2 separate regions of the Homo sapiens genome follow, and region 1 is linked to region 2. Evidence: fine-mapped expression QTL. Tissue or cell type: blood mononuclear cells. Region 2 holds a variant in brackets; the other region holds the start of a gene. All regions are shown on one strand. Distances are from middle to middle.

Region 1 (8,182 bases), 66 kb after region 2:
CCACCTCGGCCTCCAAAAGTGCTGGAGTGCTGGGATTACAAGTGTGAGCCACCATGCCTGGCCCAAAGTATCTTCTTTGAAGCAGAAATAAAATAATATTTTACACTAAGTCAAAAAATAATCCTTCTTCTGTACACTCACAGCTTTTTGTTTTTGTTTTTGTTTTTTTTTGAGACTAAGTCTCGCTCTCGTTGCCTAGGCTGGAATGCAATGGCACGATCTCAGCTCACTGCAACTTCCGCCTCCCGGGTTCAAGCGAGTCTCCTGCCTCAGCCTCCCAATTAGCTGGGATTACAGGCGCGGGCCACCAGGCCTGGCTAATTTTTGTATTTTTAGTAGAGACGGGGTTTCACCATGTTGGCCAGGCTGGTCTCGAACTCCTGACCTCAGGCGATCTGCCCACCTCAGCCTCCCCAAGTGCTGGGATTACAGGCATGAGCCACCGCACCCGGCCCACTCACAGCTTTTTATCTGGCATTTTTCACATTCTACTTTGTGAGTATTACTTCTGAATGTCTATTTTCCCCCACTTCTAAATTAAGTGAAAGCAGGCTGGGTGTGGTAGCTCATGTCTGTAACTCCAGCACTTTGGGAGACTGAGGCAGATGAATCTCCAGAGGTCAGGAGTTTCAGACCAGCCTGGGCAACATAGTGAGAACCCCGTCTCTACCAAAAATACAAAAAAATTTGCTTGGCGTGGTGGCGGGCGCCTATAATCCCAGCTACTCGGGAGGCTGAGGCATGAGAGTTGCTTGAACCAGGCAGGTGGAGGTTGCAGTGAGCCGAGATTGTGCCACTGCACTCCAGCCTGGGCGACAGTGCAAGATCCTGTCTCAAAAATAAATAATAAATAAGTGAAAGCAGAGACTATATCGGATACCTATCTGTATGCTTTTAAAATGCCAAGCATACAGGAGGAATACAATAAACACATAGTAGTGGACTAATAAATGTTAATTCTACAAAAGGTTAATTTATCTTTAGCTTTTCTGAAGTGATTTTTTTCACCCTGGTAATTTTTAGCTTGGAGAATAATTCATCACTAAGTGTGGGCAACATTTCTGCTAACGCTGCCATCAAAGAACTTTCCCTTTTTGGGGTGGGGTAGGTCTCCCTTTGCTGTCCTCTCAGGAAAAGTTGAGCTCTGAAGAAAAATGAGTCTAGCAAGGGTGTATTACGAACGCAGCAATCAAATAACTGCCAAATTTACTGAACTTTTTCAATTTGCTAGGTACCCGTGGGTACCAAGGTGTGGGGATTCTTTGAATCCTCACTCCCACACTTTTGGGGCAAGCTGCTTTTTCAAAAGCAAGCAAGCTCTGAAAGAGTATGTTACTTGCGCAGTGTCTTACAAGGGATAGCTGTGTCATTTCAAATACAGATGTCAAGGCTGGACGCAGTGGCTCACGCCTGTAATCCCAGCACTTTAGCAGGCCGAGGCAGGCAGATCACCTGAAGTCGGCAGTTCGAGATCAGCCTGACCAACATGTAGAAACCCTGTCTCTACTAAAAATACAAAATTAGCTGGGCGTGGTGGCGTATGCCTGTAATCCAGCTACTTGGGAGGCTGAGGCAAGAGAACTGCTTGAACCCGGGAGGTGGAGGTTGCGGTGGGCTGAGAACGCGCTGTTGCACTCTGGCCTGAGCAACAAGTGTGAAACTCCCTCTCAAAAAACAAAAACAAAAACAGACGTCCAGTAAAGGATGCACAGTCAATAGGGACTGATCAACACTCGAAAAAGCACAGTAGGAGGCCGGGTGCGGTGGCTCACGCCTGTAATCTCAGCACTTTGGGAGTCCCAGGTGGGCAGATAACCTGAGGTCAGGAGTTCGAGATCAACCTGGCCAACACAGCGAAACCCCATCTCTACTAAAAATACAAAAAATAGCCAGGTGTGGTGGCGGGCGCCTGTAATCCCAGGTACTCGGGAGGCTGAGGCAGGAGAATCGCTTGAACCTGGGAGGCAGAAGTTGCAGTGTGTTGAGATGGCGCCATTGCACTCCAGCCTGGGCGAAAGAAACGCCATCTCAAAAAATAAAAAAATAGTAGGGCCGGGCGTGGTGGCTCACGCCTGTAATCCCAGCACTTTGGGAGGCCGAGGCGGAAGGATCACTTGAGGTCAGGAGTTCGAGACCAGCCTGGCCAACATGGTGAAACCCCACCTCTGCTGAAAATACAAATATTAGCTGGGCGTGGTGGCCCACGCCTCAGGCACGAGAATCGCTTGAGCCTGGGAGGCGGAGATTGCAGTGAGCCGCGATCGTGCCACTGCACTGCAGTACAGCCTAGGAGAAAAAAAAAAAAAGGCAAAAAAGCACAATATTGCAGTCTGCAGAATCTTCTTTCTCCCCCTTTCACAAGAGACCACATTCTGACACCAACTTCCGTGGAAACACTGGCGCTAGCTCCAAACTAACAATCGCCAAATTCGAATCAGTTACCGGGAGAAGGAAGTGAGGCACTTCGCCGGGCAGGAGTCCACGTTGGGAGGAGGAAAGGCGCAGGCTCCCGAGTTGTGGAGCCAACGTTCAAATCCTTACGGGGTGGGACCGGCCTGGGCCAGTCATTTTACCTGCGCCTCAGCTCTAACAGGGTACTGAAATACCTACTTTGGGGGGCCTGCTAGGAAATTCAAATGGGCAACGCTGGTCAGGGGCATCTGGCACAGTGGCCATTCTTGGTAGAGCTACGCGCTCCAGGGCTGAGCGGGAAATGGCGAGGCCGGGGCACTGGGGCACCGCCCAGACGCGGGGCGGGCCCCCGGGGTCAGGCCCGGCCCCACACCGCCCTCCCCCACAGAGCGGCGAGGCCCGCCGCTGCCCGCCCGCCGGCCCGCCAGCCTGCCGCGTCAAGCCCGCCGCCGGGGCCCGCAGCCCGCGACTCCTCCCCCGCCGCACCTCGTGGCCCCCGCTTCTCCCTAGTCCCGCTAGAGGGGCTCGCGCTCCGCCACCCGCCCGCCCGCCCGCCCAGCGCTGCCTGGCGCCTCACCTCGCCGAGACCCCCTAATCCGCGCCAAAGAGCCGCCGGTCGCGCGCGCCTCCGGGCTTTGCGTGCGCGCCCCCGGGCGGCGCAGTGGCGAGCGCGCCGCGTGCCGCGCGCCCGCCGCCTCCGCCCCTCGGCCGTGGAGGCCCCCGCCGGGTGCTGAGCGCCCGCCACCGCCCTCTTGGCCTTTTCCCGGTCCCCGCCGCGCGCCTGCTGCTGTCCCCGTGCCCGAGGACTGGGAGGATGGGGCTGAGCCGCTTGCCTGACTTTTGATCCGACCAGTAATCACTTTGCCCGTGTGGCGCGTGGCCCGTTGCCTGAGGCTTCCTGGCGCGTGGGGCTGTTTGGTCCCCTCCGGAGTGCGGTGAGGCGGGCCGAGCCGGGACTGCCTGGGTTTGGGGATAACGTTCCCATCTCCACCCCTGTTGCAGCAAGGGAAATTGAGGCTGAGGGAACTGGGCCCAGGGACGGCGAGCCGTGGCGCCTCTCCAGTCCGGGCCCCGAAGGGCTGCTCGTGGATGAACCAGACTGATTTTAAGGGGTGAAGAGGGTGCGTTTCAATCAGATGCTCCTGGAACGTCGAAATTGTCTTCTTTGGAAAGAACCATCCCCTCTTTGGGCTTCAGAGGCCCAAATTGAGGCGCAATGATGAGAGGATGTGGTGGTCTACTCTGATGTCAATCTTGAGGGCTAGGTATGTCCCAAGATCTCTTATTACTGCTGTTAATGATGATTCTAATAGCTACCATTTGTCGAGTACTTATTGCATGCCAGACATTGCACAAAGCAGGTTACACATACGGTCTCATTTAAAACTTGTGAGGTAGGCACCTGTTGTTATCCCTATTTTCCAGGTGAAGAAATCTAGGCACTGACATAAATAACTTGGGATCACACTGCTAGGAAGTACTGGGGAAGGGAATTCAAACCATGGTTTATCTGAACTATATAACTGTTACATCTATTTAGAAGTCTGCCTTTGATAAATTTGCCCAACCTTTTTTTAGAATTCACTTACACTTTATGCCTGTGTGAACCCTTTCATTCTTTTTTGGTATATGCATAATACAAGTTCATTCCAAAAAAAAAAAAAAAAAAAAGCCCTGCCGGGCGCGGTGGCTCACGCCTGTAATTCCAGCACTTTGGCAGGCCGAGGCGGGCGGATCACAGGGTCTGGAGTTCTAGACCAGCCTGACCAACATGGTGAAATCCCGTCTCTACTAAAAATACAAAAAATTACGCGGGTGTGGTGGCAGGCACCTGTAATCCCAGCTACTCCGGAGGCTGAGGCAGTAGAATCGCTTGAACCCTGGGGGCAGAGGTTACAATGAGCCAAGATCTTGCCATTCCACTCCAGCCTGGGCAACGAGAGCGAAACTCTGTCTCAAAAAGAAAAGAAAAGGAAAGAAAAACCACCTCCCACCAGGTTAAATAAATAATTAACATTTTGGTATGTACCCTTCCAGACATTTTCCTATGCATCACATCAATAAATATATGATAGGATATTTTACATTTGATGTATCCTGAAGATTAATTCAACAAATGTTTAGTGAGTAGGCTTGTTGTAGGTGCTGGGAATTCAGCAGTGAACAAAACAAAGTCTCTGCCTCATGGAGCTCATATTATAGTAGGGAAGACTGTCAATAAGCAATATACACATTACTAAATGATAGATAATGCCCAGTAATGTGGCAAGTTTTATGGAAAAATAAATCAGGATAAAAGGATAAGAGTGATATGGGGATTCTCTTAGTTAGGGTAGATAAGGAAGGCCTCTTAGCTAAGGAGGCACATAAATATCTGATCATTTAATGAGAGAAGGAGCAACATGGATTTCTAGAGGGAAACTATCCTAGAAGAGAAGCAGCAAGTGCAGTGACCCTGAAATGGGGATTTGTTTGGCATGGAGAAAGGGCAAGACCAGTGTGGCTGGAGCACAGCAAATGAGAGAAATTAGATGGAAATCAAGGCAGATCATGTATCATCTGGTAAGGTTTGGATTTTATTGGGAAGTGACAGAATATGACGAAGGGTTGAGAGCAAAGGAGTAGCTTTGCTGTAAAAGGATCACTGTGGGCTGGGAGCGGTGGCTCACACCTGTAATCCCATCACTTTGGGAGGCCGAGGCAGGCGGATCACTTGAGGTTAGAAGTTCGAGACCAGCCTGGTCAACATGGTGAAACCTCATCTCTACTAAAAATACAAAAAAAATTAGCTGGGCATTGTGACGGGCGCCTGTAATCCCAGCTACTCGGGAGGCTGAGGTAGGAGAATCACTTGAACCTGGGAGGTGGAGGTTGCAGTGAGCCAAGATTGTGCCACTACACTCAAGCCTGGGCAACAGAGTGAAACTGCATCTCAAAAAAAAAAAAAAAAAAAAAATCACTGTGGCAGCTGTGTGGAGAATGGATGGTAGAAATATTAAAATTGCCCTTTGCCTGGTGAAGTGGTGTGTACCTGTAATCCCAGCTACTCGAGAGACTGAGGCAGGAGGATGGATTGAGCCCAAGTTTGAGACCAGTCTAGGCAACGTATCGAGACCCCCATCTCTAAAAAAATTTTAAATTGCTCTCTAAGGCATAAATTGTCCTTTTACATGGTAGTTGTTCAACAGATAGTTGATTAACATTAGTGTTTCACCTATAGCTGTACAGCTTTACAACCACTCTCAACTTCACATAGTGGAAGTGGGGTCAGTCATTTAGGACATATCTGTGTCTTTGTCATTGAAACTCAAATTTTGAGACTGGCTAAGGCAAATATCCAGATCTGGATGTCATGATTGTCAACAATGAATATCAGTAATCAGTGTTGTAATACTGTAGAAAAATTAGTCCCACATAATACTGAGATCTAGTCGTTAAAAACATAGCATTCAGGGGCCAGGCACAGTGGCTCATTCCTGTAATCCCAGCAGTTTGGGAGGCCAAGGCAGATGGATCATTTGAGGCCAGTAGTTCAAGATCAGCCTGGGCAACATGGCGAAAACCCATCTCTGCTAAAAATGCAACAATTAGCTGGGTGTGGTGGCGCATGCCTGTAATCCCAGCTTCTTGGGAGGCGCAAGAATTGCTTGAACCCTGGAGGTGGAGGTTGCAGTGAGCTGAAATCGCACCACTGCCCTCCAGCCTGTTCAACAGAGCAAGAGTCTGTCTCAAAAACAAAAAAACAAAAATCATAGCATTCAACTACCTGGAAATTACCCTCTCCCTTCAGTTGATGTTAGGCTCTACTTAGACCAATTTAGTCAGTGTGCTTAAGAAAGATGTGGAGAGGGCAGGACACGGTGCCTCACACCTGGGATCCCTGCATTTTGGGAAGCCAAGGTAGGCAGATCACTTGAGTTCAGGAGTTCAAGGAGGCATGAGAACTGGGCAACATGGTGAAACTTCGTCTCTACAAAAATTGCAAAAATTAGCCAGGTGTAGTGGCGCATGCCTGTAGTCCCAGCTACTTAGGAGGCTGAGGTGAGAGGATCACTTCAGCCCAGAGGGTTGAGGCTGCATTGACCCAGTATCACACCACTGCACTCCAGCCTAGGTGACAGAGTGAGACACTGTACCAAAAAAAAAAAAAAAAAAAAAGATGTGGCAAAATTAACATGCACAGTGAGAAGAAGGGTAACACTGATTACTGATTAAGGCAGTACTCCTCTGGGTTTTTGTCTTAAGTGGATGTGATAGTGGCATCACTTACACGACCAGCTGAAGGAAGAATAGATTTGGAGGAGAAATTGAAAGTTCTGTTTTGGATCTGTGTTTTGCATTCTGACTGGAAATGACAAATACAAGTCTACAGCTCATTGGAGGTGTCAGAACTAAAACTGTATAACTGTATTAGAATTGTTTATTTGGCTGTGTGTCTTACCTAGACAGACCTTGAGGACAGACACTGTTGTCTTTGTAACCTCAGTGCTCTGAAGTGTATCCTCAAATACTTGTGAAATGAGTAAGTAAAGGCAAAAGTAAAAATGAAGTCACTGGCTGGGTGCAGTGGCTCACGCCTGTAATCCCAGCACTTTGGGAGGCTGAGGCGGGCGGATCACGAGGTCAGGAGATCGAGACCATCCTGGCTAACATGGTGAAACCCCATCTCAACTAAAAATACAAAAAATTAGCCGGGCGTGGTGGTGGGCGCCTGTAGTCCCAGCTACTCAGGAGGCTGAGGAAGAAGAATGGCGTGAACCTGGGAGGTGGAGCTTGCAGTGAGCTGAGATCGTGCCGCTGTACTCCAGCCTGGGCAACAGAGCGAGACTCTGTCTCAAAAAAAAAAAGAATGAAGTCACTTAGGCAAAATGTAGAAGATACATACTCTATGCTTTCACTGAAAGTCTAAGCACCTGAATGTGACTTACAAGTAGGGTGACCATAATTTCTGATTTGCTGAGAATAGCCTGGTTTATATCTGTTGTCCCTACCTAAGTATTAATATTGCCTGGTTTCACTCTCAGTAAAGTCTCCATTTGTACAATAAATTTATATTGTCATTCTTTTTAGAAGGCCCTTCCAGATCTAGCATCTTCCTATATCTTTATCATCACTGCCCTATCTTAGACTCCATTTGCCAGCCAGGTGGACATACCTTCATTTCTCATATGCACTCTTAACTTCAAGGTTTTTTTTGCCAAGGTACTGCCTACCTCACTTAGACATCACTTCCTTAGGAACACTTCTCCTGACCCCCCAATGGCTGAGTTAAGTCACCCTCTTACATGTTCCCAGTACACCTTGTATTTAACCTGTCATAGCAAAGATGACTAAGTGCCTTGTTCCCTCACTAAATATCTCTGTAAAGGAACCCAAAAAAACACCTTTTGTCCTCTTTAAGCCATAAATTTATATTAATAATATCCAAATCCATGTTGAACCAGTATTTTTGAAGATTGACCTTCAGGATAAACTAATAGCACAATCTTCATGCCCTTTCATTCATAAGTAACTGAAAAGGTTGACTTTTGTACCAGGAACCCAACGAAGAAAACTTGTATCTTGTCAGGGTTGGTAACCTGGCTGCCATTGACTGAGACCAAAATATCCCAACAGTTTGTCCTCAGCTGCTAAGCTGCTGTGGTTAGAATCAAACGTAGAGTTTCTGGCCTGGTGCGGTGGCTCATGCCTGTAATCCCAACACTTTGACAGTCCTAGGTGGGAAGATTGCTTGGGCTCAGGAGTTCGAGACTAAACTGGGTGACTTAGT
Region 2 (8,182 bases):
CCTACTTCAAAGGGAAAGGAGATAAAGAGACCTTGCTAAGAGGAGGTAACTTTAACTGCTAAAAATCTAGAAAATTGCCACATTATCCAGCAATGAGGAGTCTGAGGTCACCATTATGTGGGTAAGGATAAAAAAAGCTTGAAATTCCAGGCCATTCAATATTTGAATCAGGCTGACCTATGACCTCCTTCAGCAATACATAGATACTACATACATTTCCTTCCACTCCCAAACTAATCCTTACTGTTCCTGGTGGATAAAATAAGACTAACACTATCCCCTACACTATGACCCTTCCTTATTATCTGAACTGAACTAATGATATATGGTGGGAGATGGGGAACTGACCTTGGGAATTATAAAAGGAGCATATGAGGAGCAAAAGAGGAACTCCTCCAAAAGAGGAACAGACTTCAGAGATGTGACAAAGTTTTCTGAAAACTCCTGATGATGACTCTTATGAGGCTGGCTTTAAATTTTAGAAACAGATAAAATCAATATGAAGACATGTCTGATGATTGCAACTGGAAAAAGTAGGTCACATAATTTTTTAATCAGGCCGGTGCAGTGGCTCACATCTCTAATCCCAGCACTTTTGGAGCTGGTGTGAGTGGATCACCTGAAGTCAGGAGTTCGAGACCAGCCTGGCTAACAAGGTGAAACCCCGTCTCTACTAAAAATACAAAAATTAGCCGGGTGTGGTGGTATGCGCCTGTAGTCCCAGCTACTCAGGGGCAGGAGAATCGTTTGAACCCGGGAGGCAGAGGTTGCAGTGAGCCGAGATCACACCACTGCACTCCAGCCTGGGTAACAGAGCGAGACTTTCAAATAAAAAATAAAAAATAGGCCGGGTGAGGTGGCTCACGCCTGTAATCCCAACACTTTGGGAGGCCAAGGTGGATGGATCATGAGGTCAGGAGTTCAAGATCAGCCTGGCCAACATGGTGAAACCCCATCTCTACTAAAAACTACAAAAATTAGCCAGGCATGGTGGCAAGCGCCTATAGTCCAGTCCCAGCTACTCGGGGAGCTGAGGCAGAAGAATCGCTTGAACCTGGGAGGTGGAGGCTGCAGTGAGCTGTGATCGCATCACTGCACTCCAGCCTGGGTGACAGGGCAAGTCTCCGTCTCAAAAAATAAATAAATAAAAAAAAATAAAAATAAAAAATAATTTTTAAAATCAAAATTAACATGACTATATATGATGTAGAAATCTTTTCCTTAGGTTTATAAACATGCTCTGGAGACAATTTACAAAAATGTTTTAAATAATGATTATGTTGTTGGAATAAGTATAGAACTTTTCAAGGCAGCCATTCTAATAGGAAATATCTATTTTCATGTAGAAGTTACTTTAGGTTTACAAAAAATTAATTTTATTTACATAAAGCACTCAGTAGAGTAGCACATGGTAAGTGCTCAATAGATGATAGTTGCTATTATTATGTCATCTACATACCACATGTGCTTTCCCCAAAAGAGGAATGGTGGTAGGGTGACAAGGTAAGCAATTCTCTGAAATCTGCCACAAACGGCTCTTTAGCTCTTGGACTTCTAGGATTCACCAGAGCTGTGCATATATGTTAGATGAATGAAACAAAAGGGGTTTGACCCTGTAATGGATTTTTAATGACAACTCAATGAATAATCAGCCCCTATTCTCTTTCTCCCAGCCCCCTCCCTTTTGTTACCTCCTTTTCTTTTTCATTCAGCTTCTCTGTGCCAGGGAGGCCAGTGAGGTTCAAGGGTGGTGCACTCCGTCTACCTATAGACAGAGAAAGGAAACAGCATAGATTTAATAGGAGTGACAATTTCTCAGGTGTAAAGTATTAAAAAGTTCAGTGCAGCCAGGCCAGTTAGGTATAGGATCACTATATCCAGCTTAGGAAATCCTGTCCCATTCCCTCAGGCCTGTTTAGCTAACAACATGGGCACCCGAACATTCACTTGAAAATGAATTACATATTCAGGGCACATGAATTACCCATAATCTGCTAAAATACACATACAGTCACACATACCTTAGCATCAAATGTAACTACTCACCACAGTAGTTATCTCTTATTTATTATTATTATTTTTGAGACAGGGTCTCACTCTGTTGCTCAGGCTGGAGTGCAGTGTTGCGATCATAGCTCACTATAGCCTCAATCTCCCTGGCTCAAGTGATCCTCCTGCCTCAGCCTCCCAACTACCTGGGAAGACAGGCATATGCCACCATGCCCGACTATCACCTATTTCTTCCTAACCATGTAGGAGACTCTAAAATCTGATGCCCAGATGTCATCCAGTTAAGAAACATCACACAATGCCTGCTTTGACAGCTGACGAATGGAAATAATAACTGCAGAACAGACATTCCCTAATCCTTGCCACTCGGCCAGCAGTACAAGGCAAACATGGTAATTAACCAAGTACTGTGTGCCTTCAGATCAAAGAAAGACTGTTAGGCCAGCAAAAGGCCCTTCTTTTTTATTATGTGAGGGAATATCTGTTCCTTCCAAAGTAGCCCTGTTTACCTGCAAGATCCACAAACAGGAACAATGAGCCATTATATGGCAAAGCAGGGGCTGAGGTCAACTCACACACCTGAGAAAGAAACCCAAGTAGGAGGTCACTGGCCAGGAGGGGAAGCTTGATGAGCAAAACTTTTTTGGTTTTGTTTTGAATGTGTATTAGGGATTGGTATTCAGCTGGGAATGGATAGACTGAGTTAAGCAAAGAAAATGTCGAAGTTTTATAGAGGTTGCTTTTCAAGTGGGGCAGAGAAAGGGGAGGGACTGTTACAAGCTCCACTGGTGGAAAACAGGCTTCTCTGTTACATCAACAAAAGGCATAAGGGATTATTCCAAATCCTCAAAAAGGGAGATAAAACCATTTGGTTCCTCACAAAAGTCACCAGAGGCTAGGCTACAATCAAAGATGCCAGGCTTCCAATACATAGTTGCCTTAAGAACTCAGAACATAAAGGAGAGCAAGAGATCTCCTCAGCCTAAATATAAGGGGTGAGAAAGGCTAACACAGGCTAGGAACAAACAATGAACAAGAGGCCGGGTGCAGAGGCTCACACCTGTAATCTGAGCACTTTGGGAGGCTGAAGCAGGAGGATCACTTGAGCCCAGGAGTTCAAGACCAACCTGGGTGATATAGTAAGACCTTGTTTCTACCAAAAAAAAAAAAAAAAAAAAAAAAATTTCTCCAGGTTTGGTGGCATTCACCTGTAGTCCCAGCCACTCAGGAGCTGAACTGGGAGGATCACTTAGGCCTGGGAGTTTGAGGCTACAGTGAGCCATGATCACATACTGCACTCCAGCCTGGATAGTAGAGGGAGACCCTGTCTCACAAAAAAAGAAAAAAGAAACAATGAACAAGTCAGTGCAGATAGTACAGAGAACAAAAATATATGATCATGTTAGCCAGTTCCTTCATTTAATTTAATTAATTAATTTATTTATTTTTTGAGATGGTCTTAACTCTGTCACCCAGGCTGGAGTGCAATGGTGCGATCTTGGCTCACTGAAACCTCTGCCTCCCGGATTCAAGCGATTCTCCTGCCTCAGCCTCTGGAGTAGCTGGGATTACAGATGTGTACCACCACACCCAGCTAATTTTTATATTTTTTTTTCAGGAGAGATGGGTTTTCATCACGTTGGTCAGGCTGGTCTCAAACTCCCAACCTCAGGTGATCTGCCCGCCTCAGCCTCTCAAAGTGCTGGGATTACAGGCATGAGCCACTGCACCTGACCCAGTTCCTTCATTTTAATTAGCCAGTATTAACTTAGTTGTATTTAGATTTTGGGGGTAGAGTGTTGGCAGTAAGAAACTTACAAAATAAAACTTTGATTTCACTGTCTTAGCCACTCCCCTAAAACAATACCTTTTTCTTCTTTCCATATTAAGAAAAAATCACTTGAAATAAAGGAATAAATGGGGGAAAAAAAAAAGTCCCTTCAGTGACCAGGCGCAGTGGCTCATGCCTGTAATCCCAGCACTTTGGGAGGCCGAGGCAGGCAGATCACCTGAGGTCAGCAGTTCGAGACCAGCCTGGCCAGCATGGCGAAACCCCATCTCTACTGAAAGTACAAAAATCAGCTGGGCATAGTGGCAGGCGCCTCTAATCCCAGCTACTTGGGAGGCTGAGGCAGGAGAATCGCTTGAATCCGGAAGGCAGAGGTTGCAGTGAGCCAAGATCGCGTCACTGCACTCCAGCCTGGGTGACAGAGCGAGACTCCATCTCAAAAAAAAAAAAGTCCCTAACGCGGACAAATCTGAGACCCAGATTCTGAATCTACTGAGACATACCTCCCCCAATTCCCAGTCATCGATTACCAATCACCAAGGATCATCAGATAGCGTATGGCTTAATCTTGCTCTGTATACTAATTTCAAAATAGGACATACTCAAAGAGGTAAAACGAAGAAATAGAAATACTTTAGGTCTCTAACTCAGAAATCCTTATGTTTCTGGCAAGTAACATGCTTCTTTGCTCATGTTATATAAAAATAAAAAGTTTAGGCTGGGCACGGTGGCTCACGCCTGTAATTCCAGCACTTTGGGAGGCCGTGGTGGGTGCCTCACTTGAGGTCAGGAGTTCGAGACCAGCCTGGCCAACATGGCAAAACCGTCCCTACCAAAAATACAAAAATTAGCCAGGCGTGGTGGTGCATGCCTGTAATCCCAGCTGTTCGGGAGGCTGGGGCAGAAGAATCACTTGAACC[C/T]GGGAAGCGGAGGTTGCAGTGAGCCGAGATCACACCACTGCACTCCAGCCTGGGCGACAGACCGAGACTCTGTCTCAAAAAATAAGTAAATAAATAAAAAATAATAAAATAAAAAGCTTTTAATTTATCTCCTGTGAAATAAGTCTCAAAATTAGTGGTAGACACAACTGCAGTAAACTAACTGCTCATGAACATTGGTAAAATAAAGAAGTTACCTCTCTGAAGTTCTTTTTTCCCCTGTCTCTATACTGTCTATACTCTATACTGTCACTCTGAGGATAGTCTCTGTCTGGCCATGAAGGTTCTGAAAACATACTGATGTTTATATATTGGGCTAACACTTGATTACTGTTACTCTGCCTAAGCACCCTGACACCACAGAGGAAGGAAGATTGCTGGGTCACTATAACCCCTACGATGCAAACTTCACAATTAAGACTTGTTCTGGCCTGAGAAATAATTACCTGAATTCGAAGCCATTGGAATGGAAGGACTCAGGCCGGAATCACTACAACGAAGAAGAGGAATTTAAACTTAGGTCATATCAAACAAGGTGATTTCCAAAAGCCCCGGTGAGACTGGGTGCCATTTATCAGGTAGGTCACCTTGAAGAAGTGTAATGAGATAGACTGAACTATGTTTTACAGATATCTCACTGTATTGAGCAGGAAAGAAAATCTGTTCTGAGGAAGAAAAATTCCTCAGATTTGTTAAGAAGAGCTTGTAATCTAGAACACCACTAACACCACTCAAGGGGAAGGGATACAAACATGATTCCCCAGTGAAAATCTAGGTATGAAGAGAGAGTTGAAGTCATGGGTAGAAGGCTGGGGGAAAATACACTCATTTTAAAAAATAGGATCAAAGTAGTAAAGTATGATTCTAGGAGGTCAGTTATTTCTCAAAACTGTCAGTATGGCACTGTTTCTGAGATGGACTGCTAAAATATTTCTGAATTCTTCCAGCTACTCAATTATTATTACTCTGCCATCTAGGGTGCCCAAAAATATATGTGAAGGCCAAGGCATCCCAGAAAGAATGCCTCCTTCACCCTGGAGTAATTACTCACATGTCAGCTTGCCGGCGGAGCCACTGCTGGCAAGCACTACTGTCCTGGATATACTGGAGAACTTCTGAGAGCATAGTGCGTTTAAGGCGCTCTTCCTCCCGTGTCTTCTTGAGGTGATCGTAGGTTCTGGCACCTGGGGGTATAGAAAACACAATGACCACAATGACAATGCAGCAGAACTGAAGGGCTTCCTAACTGACCAAGAAACCGGTTTTGGGTTTTGTTCTTAAAGTCTGTTTCCTTTGCAAAACTGCTTTCACAATTATTTCTCCAAGACCCAAGTAGATTTTCCCTAGTCTGAAATCCTTTTCTTAATACTAAGTATTAAATATTAAACATTTGTATTCCTTTTCTATCTGTAAGAAATAAGGGGAAAAAAACCAACAGAAAAGTACAAAGAAAGTAAGAATTGCTCATATTTCCACTCTCAAAAAGTAACCAACTTTTACTATAGTCATATTTGCTTCCTGTTTTTTCTATTTTTATAAATTTTTTCAAAGTCACACAAGTGCTATAAGCATATGCCTTTCCTTAAAAAACAATTAGAATTACAAAAAAAGAGTTCTCTTTGACATGTAGTACCTCTTCTCCATATTTCTTAGAGGCAGCCAATATCAGGAAACCAAAATTAGTTATCAGAGTCTCTATATGCATCTTGCTAAACAGAAGAGCTGCGTGGTGTTTTCTACATGTTAACAAAGGTTCACAGATTCCAAAATACTGCACCAGTGGGTTTCAAAATTCAAACTAGGTTCCACAGAGCCCCAGGATACCACAAGAGTATCTTAGAGGTTAATGTAAAGAGAAAGGGCACTGCCAGATACCGGCGGGTCCTGGGCTCTACACATAAATTGAACCATTAAAGTTCAACCAAAGTAATTCCACTTTTATCTTTTTTTGAGACGGAGTTTCGCTCTTGTTGCCCAGGCTTGAGTGCAATGGCGCGATCTCGGCTCACAGCAACCTCCACCTCCCAGGTTCAAGCCATTCTCCTGCCTCAGCCTCCGGAGTAGCTGGGATTACAGGCATGCGCCACCATGCCCAGCTAATTTTGTATTTTTAGTAGACACGGGGTTTCTCCATGTTGGTCAGGCTGGTCTTGAACTCTGGACCTCAAGTGATCCGCCCGCCTCGGCCTCCCAAAGTGCTGGGATTACAGGTGTGAGCCACCGTGCCCAGCCCACTTTTATCTTATTTGTAGATTGGGGCTCACACAAAATTTAATTTCAAAAATGGTTTCCACTGTTAAAGAGCCATTATACTAGGCTGAACTTACATCCATAAGGCTATGTTGCACCCACAGGGCTGTGTTAAGAAGCCAACTATTGCCGGGCGTGGTGGCTCACACCTGTAATCCCAGCGCTTTGGGAGGCTGAGGTGGGTGGATCACCTGAGGTCAGGAGTTCGAGATCAGCCTGACCAACATGGATAAACCCCATCTCTACTAAAAATACAAAAAAAAAAATTAGCCGGGTATGGTGGTGCATGACTGTAGTCCCAGCTACTCAGGAGGCTGAGGCAGGAGACTCGCTTGAACCTAGAAGGCAGAGGTTGTGGTGAACCAAGATGGCACCACTGAACTCCAGCCTGCGCAACAGAGCCAGACTCCGTCTCAAATAAAAAAAAAAAAGAAGCCAACTATTTCTTATAGATAGTAGGTGACAACTATCAATAATCACAAAAACTTCAAATAGGAAGAAGGAGGGAATGCTAAAGATCATTTCAACAATGACAGCAAAACAACAGAAACTGCCATTTATTGAGGAATTATTGTGTGCCAGATACTGTGCTATGCTTATATGCAGTATCTCTAATTAAATCTTTACACTAACTCTAAGAACCTTAGAAAATTAAAACTTGAATAGAGGCCAGGCACAGTTGCTCACACCTGTAATCCCAGCACTCTGAGAGGCCTAGGCGGGAGGACTGCTTGAGGCCAGGAGTTTGAGACCAGCCTGGGCAACATAGCAAGAGTCAGTCTCTAGGGAAAAAAAAAAAAGGAAAGAAAAATAAATTTGGATAGAATCACATCACAGAGCTGGCAAGCTGGAGAGCCAAAATTTATACTCAAGCTTTTTAAGTCTAGACCCAAGCTCTTAACTACTATAATACACTATCTCTTATGACCTGGTTCTAGTACTAACTAGCTCTGTAACCTCTTTATACCTTAATTTCTTCACTAAATGGAAGTAACGGTACTTTATAAGTTTGTCATGAGAATTCATTGACTTGATCCAAGTGAAATGGTTAGCATAGAGACTGGTACATGGTAAATATCTGATAGATGTTAGCTGCTAATAATATAATTATTGTCACTACCCCAAGTAACTGGGATGCAAGCACCTGGAGCCAGTTGAAGCTTCATTATTTTATAAAAATGCTAAGACCATGTAT

What was found. PIP is the estimated chance that this variant, and not a neighbour inherited with it, causes the effect.
Region 1: it holds the start of ACACA, and the variant in region 2 is fine-mapped to the expression of ACACA in blood mononuclear cells (TOPMed, PIP above 0.99).

The regions. Positions count from the first base shown.
Region 1 is chr17:37,401,757-37,409,938 of GRCh38, reverse strand. It overlaps ACACA (acetyl-CoA carboxylase alpha), which reads left to right and starts at 3,103. Exons shown (of 56, transcript NM_198834.3): 1 at 3,103-3,677. The coding sequence starts at 3,640. TADA2A (transcriptional adaptor 2A) reads right to left here and starts at 3,053. Exons shown (of 16, transcript NM_001166105.3): 1 at 2,990-3,053. RefSeq lists an enhancer at 1,237-1,921.
Region 2 is chr17:37,468,139-37,476,320 of GRCh38, reverse strand. It overlaps TADA2A (transcriptional adaptor 2A), which reads right to left. Exons shown (of 16, transcript NM_001166105.3): 13 at 5,789-5,921; 14 at 5,184-5,227; 15 at 1,692-1,765. Among named protein-coding and RNA genes, the nearest start is that of DUSP14, 18 kb to the left of the region's middle. The variant C/T (reference allele first, on the strand shown) is at 4,720.